Linked DNA regions of Homo sapiens: regions 1 and 2 are each linked to region 3. The links come from fine-mapping of genetic effects on gene expression. A gene starts in region 3. Each other region holds a variant in brackets. All regions are shown on one strand. Distances are from middle to middle.

Region 1 (5,368 bases), 57 kb after region 3:
CCAAAAATGAGAAAAATGTCTGCATGGGAGGGAGGCATTGCAAAGGATGTTGGAGTCTAAGCAGGATAAAAAGAAAACCCATAAAGGTGGTTGGAGAGAGATGGAAGTGCTGGGAGACTGGCCACAACTGATTAAGTAAAAACACTGAGGCCAGGCGCGGTGGCTCACGCCTGTAATCCCAGCACTTTGGGAGGCCAAGGAGCACAGATCATGAGGTCAGGAGTTCAAGACCAGCTTGACCAATATGGTGAAACCTCGTCTCTACTAAAAATACAAAAATTAGCTGGGCGTGGTGGTGTGCGCCTGTAGTACCAGCTACTCAGGAGGCTGAGGCAGGAGAATCGCTTGAACCCGGGAGACAGAGGTTGCAGTGAACCAAGATTGTGCCACCGCGCTCCAGCCTGGGCAACAGCACGAGGCTCCGTCTCCAAAAAAAAAAAAAAAGTAAATATATTGAAGACAAGGGAGCAAGGTTTTACACTGTTAGAAAAGTAATTAGTAGTGTAAAAAAGTGGTGCCAGTGGCTCACGCCTGTAATCTCAGCACTTTGGGAGGCAGAGGCAGGCGGATCACCTGAGGTCAGGAGTTTGAGACCAGCCTGGCCAACATGGTGAAACCCCATCACTGTTAAAAATATAAAATTAGGCAGGCGTGGTGGCGAATGCCTGTAATCCCAGCTACTTGGGAGGCTGAGGTAGGAGAATTGCTTAAACCTGGGAGGCGGAGGTTGCAGTGAGCCGAGATCGTGCCACTGCACTCCAGCCTGAGCAACAAGAGTGGAAAGTTCGTCTCAAAAAAAAAAAAAAAAAAAAAAAAAGGGGATATGTCAAAAGAACACAGAAAGGAGCTCACATTGACCAAAACTTTGTCAAACTGAGCATCAAAGTAAATATTAGTAGTAATGAATTAAAACAGTGAGTAAATAGGATTCAAGTCCATTCATATAAATAAATGAATACATCGAAAGTCTGGTAAGGAACAAGATATTTACATAGTTTCAAAATACTTCCTCACAAAACATTCATTAATTGGTATATTAGTTTCTTAGGGCAGTGGTTAATTAAGTACTACAAAATGAGTGGCTTAAAACAACAGAAATTTATTGTCTCTGAAGGCTAGTGGTCCAAAATTAAGATGTCAGCAGGCTGTGCTCTCTCTGACACTGGGCAGAATTCTTCCTTGCCATTTCCTGGTTTCTGGTGGTGCCCATCAATCCTTGATGTTTTTGGCTTGTAGCTGCATGGCTTCAATATCTGCCTATGCTGTCACATGATGTTCTCCCTGTGCTTTTGTCCAGTTTCTCAGTTTCTCTCTCTCTCTTTTTTTTTTTTTTTTTTGAGACAGAGTCTTGCTCTCTTGCCCAGGCTGGAGTGCAATGGTGTGATCTCGGCTCACTGCAACCTCTGCCTCCTGGGTTCAGGCGATTCTCCTGCCTCAGCCTCCCAAGTAGCTGGGATTACAGGCACCCGCCACCATGCCTGGCTAATTTTTCCTATTTTTAGTATAGACGGGGTTTCACCATATTGGCCAGGCTGGTCTTGAACTCCTGACCTCAAGGGATCTGCCTGCCTCAGCCTCCCAAAGTGCTGGGATTACAGGTGTGAGCCATTGCACCCAGCCAGTTTCCCTCTTCTTATATGGACACCAGTTATATCGGATGATTAAGGCCCACCCCAGTGAACTCATTTTAACTTGATTATATCAGCAAAGACCCTATTTCCAAATAAGGTCACATTCACATGTACTGAAGGTTAGGGCTTCAACACATCTTTTTGGGGTGGACGATTTTTTTTTTTTTTTTTTTGAGACGGAGTCTTGCTCTGTCTCCCAGGCTGGAGTGCAGTGGCGCGATCTCGGCTCCCTGCAAGCTCCGCCTCCCAGGTTCACGCCATTCTCCTGCCTCAGCCTCCCAAGTAGCTGGGACTACAGGTGCCTGCCACTGCGCCCGGCTAATTTTTTGTATTTTTTAGTGGAGACGGGGTTTCACGATGTTAGCCAGGATGGTCTCGATCTCCTGCCCTCGTGATCCACCTGCCTCGGCCTCCCAAAGTGCTGGGATTACAGGCTTGAGCCACTGCGCCCGGCCTGGGGTGCATAATTTAACCCATAACAATCACCAAGGGAAAACTTTATAATGGACAAGCCTGGAAGATGCCACATTAATCAGAATATCAAGGGGAACATTACAGGTAGTGAGATAAACCAAACTTGTGTGCCATCTGACAAGACGAAACATGAAGAACACAGAATCACTTCTGTGATATTCCTTCTAAAGATGCATAACCTCAACCTGATCACAAAGAAATATCAAATAAACTCAAACTGGGAAACATTATACAAAATATTTGACTTGTAATCTTCAAACATATTTAGGTCA[C/T]GAAAATCAAGGAGAAAGCTAAGAAACTGTTCCAGATCAAAGGAGAATAAAGAGAGATGACAACCGAATGCAACTTGTGATTCTGGATAGGATCTTTTCCTATAAAAACTGGCCAATATGAATCGGTTCTGAGGATTAGATTATAAGTGTGTCAAAGTATCAATTAATTTCCTGATTATATAACTACACCTGGAGGGGCACGGTGGCTCACGCCTGTAATCCCAGCACCTTAAGAGGCCGAGGCAGGTGGATCACCTGAGGTCAGGAGTTTGAGACCAGTCTGGCCAATATGGCGAAACCCCATCTCTACTAAAAATACAAAAAGTGGTGGTGGGCGCCTGTAGTTCCACCTATTCGGGAGGCTGAGGCAGAAGAATCGCTTGAACCCAGGAGGCGGGGGTTGCAGTGAGCCGAGATTGCGCCACTGCACTCTAGCCTGGGTGACACAGTGAGACTCGTCTCTAAATAAATAACTTTTTTTTTTTTTTTTTTTTTTGAGACGGAGTCTTGCTCTGTCGCCCAGGCTGGAGTGCAGTGGCGCGATCTCGGCTCACTGCAAGCTCCGCCTCCTGGGTTCACGTCATTCTCCTGCCTCAGCCTGCGGAGTAGTGGGACTACAGGCTCCCGCCACCACGCCCACCTAATTTTTTTTAATTTTTAGTAGAGACGGGGTTTCACCGTGTTAGCCAGGATGGTCTTGATCTCCTGACCTCGTGATCCACCCACCTCGGCCTCCTAAAGTGCTGGGATTACAGGCGTGAGCCACCGCACCCGGCTAAATAAATAAATACATACATACACCTGATGGTTATGTAGAAGAGTATGTCCAGTAGGAAATACACACTAAAACATTTTGGATAATGGGGTACAAGCAACTTATTTTCAAATAATTCAGGAAAAAAAGGTCTTCATACTGGACTTAAGATCTTTCATAATGGTGAGATTTAAAAAGATGAATAAATTTTACCAGAAAATTGAACTCTTTCTTTAAAAAAATTCAGTGGCAATTCTAGAACTGAAAAGTAAACCAACTAAGAACAGATGGGTTTGGTTTAATCATAGATAAGATTCAACAGAATAAAGTATTAATGAATTACAAGACTAGTTAGTAGAATATCTAGAAGGAAGCAGAGAAGAGAAATAAAAGATGGAAAATTCAGAAAGGACTATAAAAAAAGGCATTTGGAACACAACAATGAGATCCAATATACATACTAATGTGAGTTCCAAGAGGAGAGGAGGGAGATGAAACAGTAACAATAATTGAGATCAATAGCTGAGAATTTTTGAAAATTTATAAAAAACACGAAGCCATTTGTTATGGGTGAATTATCTATCTCTGCACCCCCTGACTCATATGTTGAAGTCCTCACTCCTAGTACCCCAGAATTATTTGAAGACAGGATTTCTACAGAGGTAATCAAGTTAAGTGAGGTCATCAGGATGGGCCCTAATCTAATATGACTGGTATCCTTATAAAAAGGTGAAATCTGGGAGATGGAAGGAGGGAGAAAGAAGGAAGGAGGGAGAGGAAAGGAGGGAGGAAGAGGGATGGAGAAAGGAAGAGAGGAAGAGAGAGTACATGCAAGCAAAAACAGGAGACAAAATAGAAATCTAAAAATTATTTGATTAATTAAAAAAAGCAAAAAAGGAGTAACAAAGAAAAGGACACATAGGACAAATAGAAAGATGGTAGACTTAAACCCAAGCATATCAATAAGTAGACTAAACACTGCAAAGTCAAAGATTTTCAGACTAGATCAAAACATAACAATAAAACTAAAACAAGATCCAACTATATGCTCTTTGCAAAAGATATACTTAAATATAAAAACTCATGGGATGCAACTTAGAAGGAAATTTACTGTATTAAATGTATACATTTCCTAAAAGCTGAAAATCAACCTGCTTATCCATTAGCCAATTCGGGGTTGGGCAGGGGGAGAAAATCAATGATCTAAGACATTTTAATGTATTTTTCCTTTTCTTTCTTCTTTTAATGTATAGAAGGGTCTCACAATGTTGCCCAGGCTAATCTTGAACTCCTGGCCTCAAGTGATCCTCCTACCTCAGCCTCCCAAAGTGTTGGAATTACAGGCATGAGCCACTGTGCCCAGCCTAAGACATTTCTAAATATAAGGTCAGACAAAATTTCCCTCTCACAAACACTTTTTTTTTGGGAAATTACTTGAGACTGCTCCAGTACAATGATAGAAACCAAGAAAAAAAGACATGGAATCTGGAAAATAGAGGACTCAACTCAGGACAACAGTTAAGAGCTATTTTAGCCTAAGACTTAGGGAATAACCTAAACTGGGGACGGAAAATGAAAATTCAGGTAGGGAGGACCCAGGGGGAAAAGGGAATTCAGAATAGCTGGTGTGATGGAGAATTTAGAAAGGCTATGCAAGGGCAAACAATAAAAGAGAAAACAAAACTCTAGGAAAAAACAAAACTTCTAGTACAACTATAGTTACCACAAAACCTTGCAATGAACAATGTTTACAGAGTTATAATGTAAGCTTTTTGAAAAATTGTTTTTCAACCTTTAGAGTAGCAAAGAGTAATTAAGTATGATTATAGAACAGAATGTAAATATTACCAACTTTGACAATACAGAAGTAAATATAGTTGGCTGGGTGTGGTGGCTGATGCCTATGGTCCCATCACTTTGAGAGGCTGAGGTGGGTGGATCACTTGAGGCCAGGAGTTCAAGACGAGCCTGTCCAACATGGTGAAACCCTGTCTCTACTAAAAAACCAAAAATTAGCCAGGCATGATGGCATGCACCTGTAATCCCAGCTACTCGGGAGGCTGAGGCAGGAGAATCACTTGAACCTAGGAGGTGGAGGTTGCAGTGAGGCCAAGAGTGCGCCACTGCACTCCAGCCTGGGTGACAAAGCGAGACTCCATCTCAAAAAAAAGACAACAACAACAAAAAGTAAATATAGTTGATTGAAGCTGGAAAATTGAAGGGATAGATGAAAACTA
Region 2 (5,368 bases), 34 kb before region 3:
TGGGTGACAGGGCGAGACTCCATCTCAGAAAAAAGAAAAGTAGATGTTCATCCAAAATTATCTCTAAAGATTGGACAGATAAGGAAAAAAAGAGGGGACAGGCTGACATTGGTCTGACTTTGAGCTCAACATACTGATTTAATAATAATAATATAGCTAACATGTATATAGCACTTACTTTGTGCCCCCGACCGGGCTGTTAGAAGAGCTTTACACACATTACCTCACTCTGTCCTCATTGTAACCCTGTGAGGTGGAGACTGTTACACCATTTACAGATTTGCAAACAAAGACACAAAGACAAATCCACTAATTTGTCTCTAATCTCTCAGCTAGAAAGTGAGAGAGCCAGGATTCTAAATTAGGCGCTGTTATTTGTATACATTGTATGCAAATAAAATTTCCAGAAATTTAGCTGAATTTACTTAATAATTTTTTCCCCTGGCAGTAGCATAAGGAAGTTTTATAAATTAAATAACATTTTGAATGAATGCCTCATATAAGACGTTGTCCCTATTCCAAGATAATGCTGATGCTAATACCAATAATATGTACAGTTGGGGCCCAGAAATGAACATGCAGCTGTCTGTCTTTAGGTTTGTGGTCATAGCAACCATTTTCGGAAAGCCTGGTGTTTGCTTTTCTGCCTCTCCGAATCATGGTTGCTCAACTCCTTTGTTCCAAAACAGACACCCCATTCCCAATTGCTGCGCGCCAGGCTGGCTTCCAGCCGTTGAGTCCGTGTCCTGTCATGCTGTCTCCACTGTTTTGTCTCACTGATGCTGTTCTTCTGACCATTCCGCTTTGGCTTGACGCAGCCGCCCATACTAGGCAGCTGCTATGAGAGCAGCCAGTGGTGACCTGTGCTCTTCCAGGGACTGGAGGGTGAGACCACCTTGCTGTGTTTACCTTTGTATTCACCACCTCACTCTGCACACAGTAGGCATTTAATGAATGTGTGTGGGGTGAGCACTGCCTCAGCTCTGGCCACATTCCAGCATTTTCTGGTTGTTGTCCTGCCCCATCACGGCCCAACTGCCTTGCACCTGATGAAATGATGAAGAAACAGGATGTGATCCATTTGGTACGATGAGGACCAAGACATGAATGGGATATTCTGGTCTCCCAGTCACCGCTATGTAGACTTTATTTCTTTATTTATTTTCTTTTTTAAAAAAGATATACTCGGTCAGGCGCGGTGGCTCACGCCTGTAATTCCAGCACTTTGGGAGGCCAAGGCGGGTGGATCACGAGGTCAGGAGTTCAGGACCAGCCTGGCCAACATAGTGAAACCTCGTCTCTACTAAAAATACAAAAATTAGCTGGGCATGGTTGAGGGCATCTATAGTCCCAGCTACTCGGGAGGCTGAGGCAAGAGAATTGCTTGAACCTGGGAGGCGGAGGTTGCAGTGAGCCGAGATCACGCCACTATACTCCAGCCTGGGCAACAGAGCGAGACTCCATCTCAAAACAAAAAACAAAAACAACAAAAAAAGATATACTCCTATATTTTTTTCTTTTTTTTTTTTGAGATGGAGTCTCGCTCTGTCGCCCAGGTTGGAGTGCAATGGCAGGATCTCGGCTCACTGCAACCTCGCCTCCCAGGTTCAAGCAATTCTCCCGCCTCAGCCTCCCAAATATGTGCCACCACCAGCTAATTTTTGTATTTTTAGTAGAGACGGGGTTTCACCATGTTGGCCAGGCTAGTCTCGAACTCCTGGCCTCAGGTGATCCACCCGCGTCAGCCTCCCAAAGTGCTGGGATTACAGGCGTGAGCCACCGTGCCTGGCCAACTTCACAGGTTTTCATAAAACCCCAAATACAACTGATGGAATATGTATGAAAGCTGTGGAGTCATATACAAAACGAAGGCAGCACTATTGTTAATGATGCTGTGCAAAATTATTTTGTAGCTGATGTTCTAGGTAGATCAAGACTGCATTAAAGGAAGACTTCATGCTGCTCCTCTGTGATGCTCAGAGTTCTTTGCTGGGGATGCTCTCAGAGTCCAACAAGACTCTGGTCAGGATTTGCCAGTGACAGAGAGGACATAATGTCTTTTCACAGTAGGTTGACAATAATGGCTCAGCCTCTGTGTCAGGAATTGGGGGAAAAAATGATGCTGCCATCTGTACAGGACCTTTCTTTTCTTTCTTCTCTCCTCCCCTCTTTTCTCTTTCTTTCTTTTTTTCTTTCTTCTTTCTTTCTTTCTCTCCTTTTTCTTTCTTTTCCTTTTTTTTTTGAGACAGAGTTTCACTCTTGTTGCCCAAGCTGGGTGCAGTGGCGCAATCTCGGCTCACTACAACCTCTGCCTCCCAAGTTCAAGTGATTCTCCTCCCTCAGCCTCCTGAGTAGCTGGGATTACAGGCGT[G/A]CACCAACACGCCTGGCTAATTTTTTGTATTTTTAGTAGAAACGGGGTTTCACCATGTTAGCCAGGCTGGTGTCGAACTCCTGACCTCAGGTGATCCGCCCCCAAAGTGCTGGGATTATAGGCGTGAGCCACCGCGCCGGCCCTTTCTTTTCTTTCTTTCTGCTTTTTTTTTTTGAGACGGAGTTTTGCTCTTGTTGCCCAGGCTGGAATGCGATGGCATGATCTCAGCTCACTGCAACCTCTGCCTCCCTGATTCAAGCGATTATCCTGCCTCAGCCTCCCGAGTAGTTGGGATTACAGGCCTGCACCACTACGTCCAGCTAATTTTGTATTTTTCGTAGAGACAGGGTTTCTCCATGTTGGTCAGGCTGATCTTGATCTCTTGACTTTGTGATCCACCTGCCTCGGCCTCCCAAAGTGCTGGGATTACAGGTGTGAGCCACTGCACCTGGCTTTTTTTTTTTTTTTTTTTGAGATGGAGTCTCGCTGTGTTGTCAGGCTGGAGTGCAGTGGCGTGATCTCAGCTCACTGCAACCTCCGCCTCCTGGGTTCAAGCGATTTTCCTGCCTCAGCCTCCCGAGTAGCTGGGACTACAGGTGCACGCCACCATGCCCAGCTAATTTTTTTTGTATTTTTAGTAGAGACAGGGTTTCACCACGTTGGCCAGGATGGTCTCGATCTCTTGACCTCGTGATCCACTCGCCTTGGCCTCCCAAAATGCTGGGATTACAGTCATAAGCCACCACGCCTGGCCTTTTTTCTTCTTTTTTTTAGATGGAGTCTTGCTCCAGTCACTCAGGCTGGAGTGCAATGGTGTGATCTCAGGGCTCACTGCAACCTCCACCTCCTGGGTTCAAGCGATTCTCCTGCCTCAGCCTCCCAAGTAGCTGGAATTACAGGCACCCACCACCATGCCCGGCTAATTTTTGTATTTTTAGTAGAGACGGGGTTTCACCATGTTAGCCAGGCTGGTGTCGAACTCCTGACCTCAGGTGATCCGCCCCCAAAGTGCTGGGATTATAGGCGTGAGCCACCGTGCCGGCCCTTTCTTTTCTTTCTTTCTGTTTTTTTTTTGAGACGGAGTTTTGCTCTTGTTGCCCAGGCTGGAATGCGATGGCATGATCTCAGCTCACTGCAACCTCTGCCTCCCTGATTCAAGCGATTATCCTGCCTCAGCCTCCCGAGTAGTTGGGATTACAGGCCTGCACCACTATGTCCAGCTAATTTTGTATTTTTCGTAGAGACAGGGTTTCTCCATGTTGGTCAGGCTGATCTTGATCTCTTGACTTTGTGATCCACCTGCCTCGGCCTCCCAAAGTGCTGGGATTACAGGTGTGAGCCACTGCACCTGGCTTTTTTTTTTTTTTTTTTTTTTTGAGATGGAGTCTCGCTGTGTTGTCAGGCTGGAGTGCAGTGGCATGATCTCAGCTCACTGCAACCTCCGCCTCCTGGGTTCAAGCGATTTTCCTGCCTCAGCCTCCCGAGTAGCTGGGACTACAGGTACACGCCACCATGCCTAGCTAATTTTTTTTGTATTTTTAGTAGAGACAGGGTTTCACCATGTTGGCCAGGATGGTCTCGATCTCTTGACCTCGTGATCCACTCACCTTGGCCTCCCAAAATGCTGGGATTACAGTCATAAGCCACCACGCCTGGCCTTCTTTTTTCTTCTTTTTTTTAGATGGAGTCTTGCTCCAGTCACCCAGGCTGGAGTGCAATGGTGTGGTCTCAGGGCTCACTGCAACCTCCACCTCCTGGGTTCAAGCGATTCTCCTGCCTCAGCCTCCCAAGTAGCTGGAATGACAGGCACCCACCACCATGCCCAGCTAATTTTTGTATTTTTAGTAGAGACAGGGTTTCACCATGTTCGTCAGGCTGGCCTCGAACTCCTGACCTCAGGTGGTCTGCCCATTTCAGCCTCCCAAAGTGCTGGGATTACAGGCATGAGCCACCACGCCTGGCCCCTCTCTTATCTCTTTTCTTTTTCTTTCTCTCTCTCCTTCCTTCCTTCTATCTCTCTCTCTCTCTCTCTTCTTCCCTTTCTTGCTTTCTCTCTCTCTCTTTCACCCCCTTCTCCCTCTTTCTTTTCTTTTTTTTTTTTTTTTTTTGGAGTCTCGCTGTGTCACCCAGGCTGGAGTGCAATGGCGCGATCTCGGCTCACTTTAAGCTCCACCTCCCGGGTTCAAGTGATTTTCCTGCCTCAGCCTCCTGAGTCGCTCGGATTACAGGTGTGCACCACCATGCCCAGCTAATTTTTTGTATTTTTAGTAGAGATGGGGTTTCCCCATGTTGGCCAGGCTGGTCTCGAACTCCTGATCTCAGGTGATCCACCTGCCTGGGCCTCCCAAACTGCTAGGATTACAGGAGTGAGCCACCGTGCCGGGCCTTCGTGCCTGCCTGCCTGCCTGCCTGCCTTCCTTCCTTCCTTCCTCCCTCCCTCCCTTCTTTCTTTTCTTTCTCTCTCTCTCCCTCCCTCCACTTCCCTCCCTTCCTTCTTTCCTTCCTCTCTTTCTTTTCTTTTCTTTCTCTCTCTCTCTTTCTTCTTTCCTTCTTTCTTGATGGAGCCTTGCTCTGTCGCCCAGGCTGGAGTGCAGTGGTGCAGTCTCAGCTCACTGCAACCTCCACCTCCCAGGTTCAAGCCATTCTCCTGCCTCGTAGTAGCTGGGATTACAGGAGCCTGCCACCACATCCAGCTAATTTTTGTAGTTTTAGTAGAGACGGGGTTTCACCATTTTGGTCAGGCTAGTCTTGAACTCCTGACCTCAAGTGATCCACCCACCTCAGCCTCCCAAAGTGTTGGGATTACAGGCATGAGCCATCATGCCTGGCCCTTTCTTTCTTTCTTCTTTCTCATTTTTTTTTTTTTTTTTGAGACAGGATCTCACTCTGTTGCCCAGGCTGGAGTGCAGTGGTGTGATCATAGCTCACTGCAGCCTCAAACTCTGGGGCTCATGCAATCCTTCTGCCTCAGCTTTCTGAGTAGCTGGGACTATAAGG
Region 3 (5,368 bases):
ATGGCTCTGGTCCCCAAATGGAGCTGGCGTTCCTGGAATGGGGAAAACAGTGGGAAGCGGGGACATGTGAAGGAACCCACAAAGGCTGGATGAGCTGGGAGGATTGAAAGAATCTGGGGTGGAGGAGAAAGGGTTGGGAGGATATAGTGGAAATGAGAAAGAACAATTTGTGGCTCTTCCTTTTAAAATAACTGAAAGGAAAAGAGAAGCGAGGTGTGAAAGGTGTCAGCTCACAGCCTGCCCCCACCTCCTCCTGCTTCTCAAGGCTCGGGCTTCCTGCTCCTCTCCCCAGGGTCCTGAGCACTAAGGCAGGAGGATGGACAGACCAAAGCTGTCACTCACCCTCTCTCGGCATGGAATGGATGATTATCTCCTCCTGATATGGAAGAGGTGGGTCTACTGGGTAGAAGGAGTAAGCAAAAGCCATGTTGGGATGGCCATCTCTAGCAGAGAAAGCCTGGCTAGTTTACATGCACAAAGAAGAACTCAGCAGAGAAGCAAGTGAAAATAGATGCTATTTTTGCACATCTAATCACATAACTTTCTAAAACAGGTATATCCTCAATTTTACAGATGAAGAAACAAAGGCTTGGAGAAGTATGTAACTTACCCAAGGTTATACAACTGGTGAGTGGCAGAGCCCACCGTCTTGTCTGCCCCGAAGCCCATGCTCTGGGGGAAGGCCATGAGGTAAAGGTGGGTAAAGAAGAGAGGGAGCTGCTTACCTTCCTTCTGTTCATTGGGGTGCTGGAGAGAGGGCAGCTCTTTTTGGAGGGGGACAGCTTCCTGAGGGAGAGGGGGACCCACTGCAAGATAGGGGTGAGGGCACCAAGGAGCAGGGATCAGCCTGGTGTCAACAGGATCCATAGTGGGATAGAGGTGAGGGAGGGTGGGCAAGCGCTCACCTTCCTTTTCAGCAGGGAGTTGGGCAGGTAGCAGCTTTTCCTGTTGGAGAGGGGTGGCCTCCTGAGAGGGAGGGGGCTGCACTATAGAAGGGGGAATGTGTGAGCAGCCCACCCTTTCTCCTAGCCAGGGCTGGGAGTGGGGGCGAGGGCCTCTTCCCTCCTTTCCACCTGAAAAGTGGGATATAGGCCAGATTAGAAACCTGGAGGGTCACTGAGGAGGGCATGGGATGGTGACCTTACCTTGACTCTGTCCCTCAAAGGGAGGGCCATGCTGAGAGGAGTCAGGGTGATCCATGGGGAGGCTTCGGGATAGGGGTGGGGAGGGGGGAGCTGCGTAGCCAACTAGAAGCAAGAGGGGAGACATCAGAGCCCACAGTGCCTCCTGGAGTCCCAATCCCATGCTGCTCCCCCAAACTCTTACCTTCTTGAAAGTGCTCTGGCCTCAGCTGCCTCTGTCCTGTAGCCGTGAAGCCTGGAGGGAAGAAGGGCAAGTCAGGGGCCACTGGGAGGGCCTTCCCTGGACTTCAGCAAGGGATGGGGAGGCTGTGGAGATCAAGAGTGTAGGACAGACAAGCAAGACACGAGATGCCCCTCTGTATTCACCTGCCCCGTGTCCCCTAATCCTCTCCCAGCCCCAACACACCTAGACATGACCAGCTGGGTTCTGAGAAAGCCTGTGGCGGTCTGATAGCTCCACCTCTACTGGCTCAGAGGTTGGGCCTAAAGGGAGTATGGCATACGGGATTGGGGAGGGAGGCCCTCATTTCCTCTGCCAGTCTTTCCCTCAGGGCTGTGGGTTGTCCTCCCCAGTCTCTGCTGGGATGCGTCTCTAGCTTTCAGAGGAAAAAGTCTGGACCTTGAGCTGGTTGGAGCCTACCCAATCCACCTCCTCCACCCACCCTCCTACTCCAGGCCCTTGAAACATCTTTAGGCCTTTGGTTAAGGAGGCTTCCTGAAGGTTGAGTGCTTCCCCTTCAGCCAGTCTCAGCTCCGCCTTAGTTTAGGTCTCAATTTAGGGCCTGGGGGACTGGGACAGGCACAGGGAAGGGTCACTTGTAGGTGATCTGCAGACACAAAAGACCAGGAGCTGGGAAGAATGATGGCATGGGGCTTCACAGAGAAGTGGACAGATTTGCTGACATCCTCAGCAGCTTCCTGCAGGAGTGCCCTGGGTGGTTTTTTTCCTTTTCTTTTCCTTTTTTTCTTAGTTTCCACCCATAGCATTGAGGGGTTCCTGTTTTGTTCAGGCATCAAAGCAGATAAAGAATGTGTTTGTGCTGGATGGAGGGTGGGTCTGTGGATGGACACCCCTCAACTCCTCTAATCAGACAGGGAGTCAGTCGAGGCTTGCTGGGCCAGCAATCCGGTTTTGAGCAGCCTGGGGGCCCCTTTTCCCTCCCTTGCCTCTCCCACCAGCCACCTCCCTACATCCTCATCAGCAGGAGACCCTCACTCTGTGAACCCACCCCCCACTCAGTTGTCTATTTGACTGGGATTCTGTGTTTCTTGGCAGCAGTTTCTAGGAACCCCTCTCCTTCTGTGCCCCTGCTCTCTGCCTCCTTGGTTAAAGGCTCCACTGGCCTAGGCCCACTTTGGGCCTGCTCAGAAAAGGAAAGCCAAACGGAGAATCACTCTGCTAGTGATGAGCCGTCTGGGATGCCTGGACCCAGACCCCTGCCATGCAAGCCCAGACCCCCTCCTAAGTGCTGATCCCCCAACTCACCTCCCTCAGAGGCAGCAGAAGCAACAGCCAAATAGGTCAAGACCAAGGCTGCTCTGGCTGTGGTCCCCATCCTGGGGCAACTGACCACTGGACACTCAGAGGTGGGTCCTCTCAGGCAAGTCTGGATGTGAAGGGCCGGCCACTGAAGCTTGTCTGGTGGCTGTTACGGTTGTGAGCTTCAGGACCAGCTCTTCTTTTATAATTGTCTGGTGTGATCTCCCGCCCTCCTCAGCTTCCTGCCATGACTCAGTCCCAGCTGCTCCTCCTCTGGAAGCCACTCCTCCCAAAGTCACCCTGAAGCCTCCTCAGAGGATTGAGAAGAATGGGACTGATTAGAGGAGAACATTCTTATGACCTTCAAGAGAAACTGATTCAGAGAATCCAGGAGCAAGAGGTGTTTGAGCCCCTAGTTTGTGCCTCAGTTTCTCCATCTACAGGCTGCCTTCTGTGGAGAGGGGATCTGCCAACTCATGAACTGGGGTTGGGGAAACAGGGCACAAAGGAGTTTACAGCGGGGAGCAGGAAACCTATCCAAGGGATCTCCCCTACCAGTGTGAGGTCTGGACTGTCCCTTTTCAATTTCCCTAACTCTCTGGGACAAAAAAGAGGGAGACAAAGTGGAACATCCTTTTATCCCACCTCTCCAGAGTCAGAGATGAAGACATATGACCAGCAGCTTCCAGTTTGTATTTATTTATTTATTTATTTATTTAGAGACAGAGTCTCGCTCTGTCGCCTAGGGGGGTGCAGTGGCGCAATCTCAGCTCACTGCAACCTCTACCTCCCGGGTTCAAGCGATTCTCCTGCCTCAGCCTCCTGAGTAGCTGGGATTACAGGCGTGTGCCACCATGCCCGGCTAATTTTTTGTATTTTTAGTAGAGACAGGGTTTCACCGTGTTAGCCAGGGTGGTCTTGATCTCCTGACCTCATGATCCGTCCGCCTCAGCCTCCCAGAGTGCTGGGATTACAGGCATGAGCCACTGCGCCTGGCCCAATTTATTTTTTTTTGTAGTTTCATTCTCCTCACATCCAAACAGCTACAGCTTCCCTCCTTTTGTGGGGTCCCCAAACCAAGTCTCTTTTCAGGAGAGCAGACATGTGCCTCCACACAGTTCTGAAGTTCTGGGGGCTCCACATTGTCAGCTGGGTTGGGGTCTCCCATGTGAGGGAGGCTGATGGCACTCGCAGGTTTTTGCCTCATCTATGTACAAAGGCTCAGAAAATTTCTTCGGCATTTGGGACCCTCGTGTTCTGTAGCTCCACCAGTCGCTGCACAGCCTCAGGCAAGTCCCACTCCCCAAGGCGACGATTATCTCGAGTCCGAATGTTCACTGTTCTCTTACTTTGCTCTTTCTGGCCAACCACTGCAGGTAGAGGAAGTTTGGGAACCTCAGGGCAAATTCACCCACATGGAACAGTTTCTTTTGCTCTGCAGAAACTTGAGAGACCTAAATCTTTAGGAAGGGTGGGAGCAGAGCCCAGATATGGTTCACAGAAAGGAAGTATTCAGCTGTGTCTGCTAATACTAAATGACCAGTCCTGCTCATCCTGAGGAGACAAGGAAGTGCTTCAGTCCCCGCAGGCCTTATCGCTTCTGGTCAAGAGCCCCAGGGTCAGAGACATAAGAGTCAAGCAGAGAAAGACAAACACTGAGAACCCCACAGAGAGAAACTGTGTGTGTGTGTGTGTGTGTGTGTGTGTGTGTCAGAGACATTAGAGTCAAGCAGAGAAAGACAAACAATGAGAACCCCACAGAGAGAAACTGTGTGTGTGTGTGTGTGTGTGTGTGTGTGCGCGCGCGTGTCTGAAGGGGGTATTAGAGCAAGTGGAAGGTGGCAGGAGTGGTGTGGCCTTCACACTGCCCCGCCTCCCCCCAACCACTCTGACCCTTAGAACAGTTTCCTCTCATCAGTCCCACTCTGGCTCTTGGTGTCTGTTAGGGCTGGATTCACAGAGTGAGGGGCCTCTGCTGAGGAGGATGTATGCAGGGGCTGACTGGGCGGTAAGGGAGGGAAAGGGGCCATGTACAAGTCCCTGGGATTGCAGCACAGCTTGCTCTGGGTGCTTGTAGGGAGAGTGGGGTGTGCAAAACTCAAGAATCAGGTAATCTGGCTGAGGAGTTTCTGCTCCTCACCTTTGAGATAGAGCCCTGAACCCTGGAAAATGAAAAAGGGAGCATGGCAGTGCCAGAATTTTCTCCCTAAGGCCTTTCTCCTCATCCCTTAGGGCTGATTCCATCTAGGTCTAAAATAAACAAGGGTAATTAACGCTGTATTAACCCTCCCGTCCCTTTCTCTCTGATGCTCCCTTGGTTAATTAACCTAACAGACACCAACAGCTAGAGTGGAGTTAAAAAGAGGAAAACTATTTTGAGTGTCAGAAGTGGTTATGGGGAGGGCAGGGCAATGTGAAGGAACACAGGGCCCAAATGAGTCAGGTGTCCTGAATCCTGGCTCCTACCTGCTCAGGTAATGAGCCCCAATTAACCCAAATATGCATTACCAGACTTGGTAAACTTAACAGCAAGAATGCAGACGGCAGGTGGGAGAACATTGGCTCTGAGGTTCAGCTTACCAAACTGAAAATTGTAGTGGGCAAGCTGGGCCCGGCGGATTCTCCGGCTGAGGGTCAGTCCAGAGTCTGCATCCAGGTCACTGACCAGTCCTGCAGCCCGCAGGCTCTGCTGTGCCTGCAACAGAGGTTTGGTGACAGGAAGTTAATTTACTGGAAAGTTAAGGAG

Direction of the effects. Positions count from the first base shown, and alleles are read on the strand shown. Sizes are in standard deviations (SD) of each study's normalised expression.
In carriers of allele T in region 1, the expression in sun-exposed skin of the gene that starts at base 2,799 in region 3 tends to be higher than with C alone (small effect, 0.26 SD a copy in GTEx).
In carriers of allele A in region 2, the expression in visceral fat of the gene that starts at base 2,799 in region 3 tends to be higher than with G alone (small effect, 0.32 SD a copy in GTEx).

Evidence for each region. PIP is the estimated chance that this variant, and not a neighbour inherited with it, causes the effect. A credible set is the group of variants that fine-mapping cannot tell apart.
Region 1: its variant is the best candidate, but not a certain one, in a credible set for the expression of ECM1 in sun-exposed skin (GTEx, PIP 0.82).
Region 2: its variant is the best candidate, but not a certain one, in a credible set for the expression of ECM1 in visceral fat (GTEx, PIP 0.80).

What each region holds. Positions count from the first base shown.
Region 1 is chr1:150,448,111-150,453,478 of GRCh38, reverse strand. All of the region lies in intron 7 of RPRD2 (regulation of nuclear pre-mRNA domain containing 2), which reads right to left. Among named protein-coding and RNA genes, the nearest start is that of TARS2, 37 kb to the left of the region's middle. The variant C/T (reference allele first, on the strand shown) is at 2,378.
Region 2 is chr1:150,539,275-150,544,642 of GRCh38, reverse strand. No RefSeq gene overlaps it. Among named protein-coding and RNA genes, the nearest start is that of ADAMTSL4, 7.4 kb to the left of the region's middle. RefSeq lists enhancers at 336-836, 837-1,337. The variant G/A (reference allele first, on the strand shown) is at 2,372.
Region 3 is chr1:150,505,540-150,510,907 of GRCh38, reverse strand. It overlaps ECM1 (extracellular matrix protein 1), which reads right to left and starts at 2,799. Exons shown (of 10, transcript NM_004425.4): 1 at 2,629-2,799; 2 at 1,327-1,377; 3 at 1,146-1,247; 4 at 906-986; 5 at 726-806; 6 at 1-32. The coding sequence starts at 2,698. TARS2 (threonyl-tRNA synthetase 2, mitochondrial) reads right to left here. Exons shown (of 18, transcript NM_025150.5): 17 at 5,203-5,317; 18 at 3,306-3,992. The coding sequence ends at 3,844. RefSeq lists an enhancer at 1-414.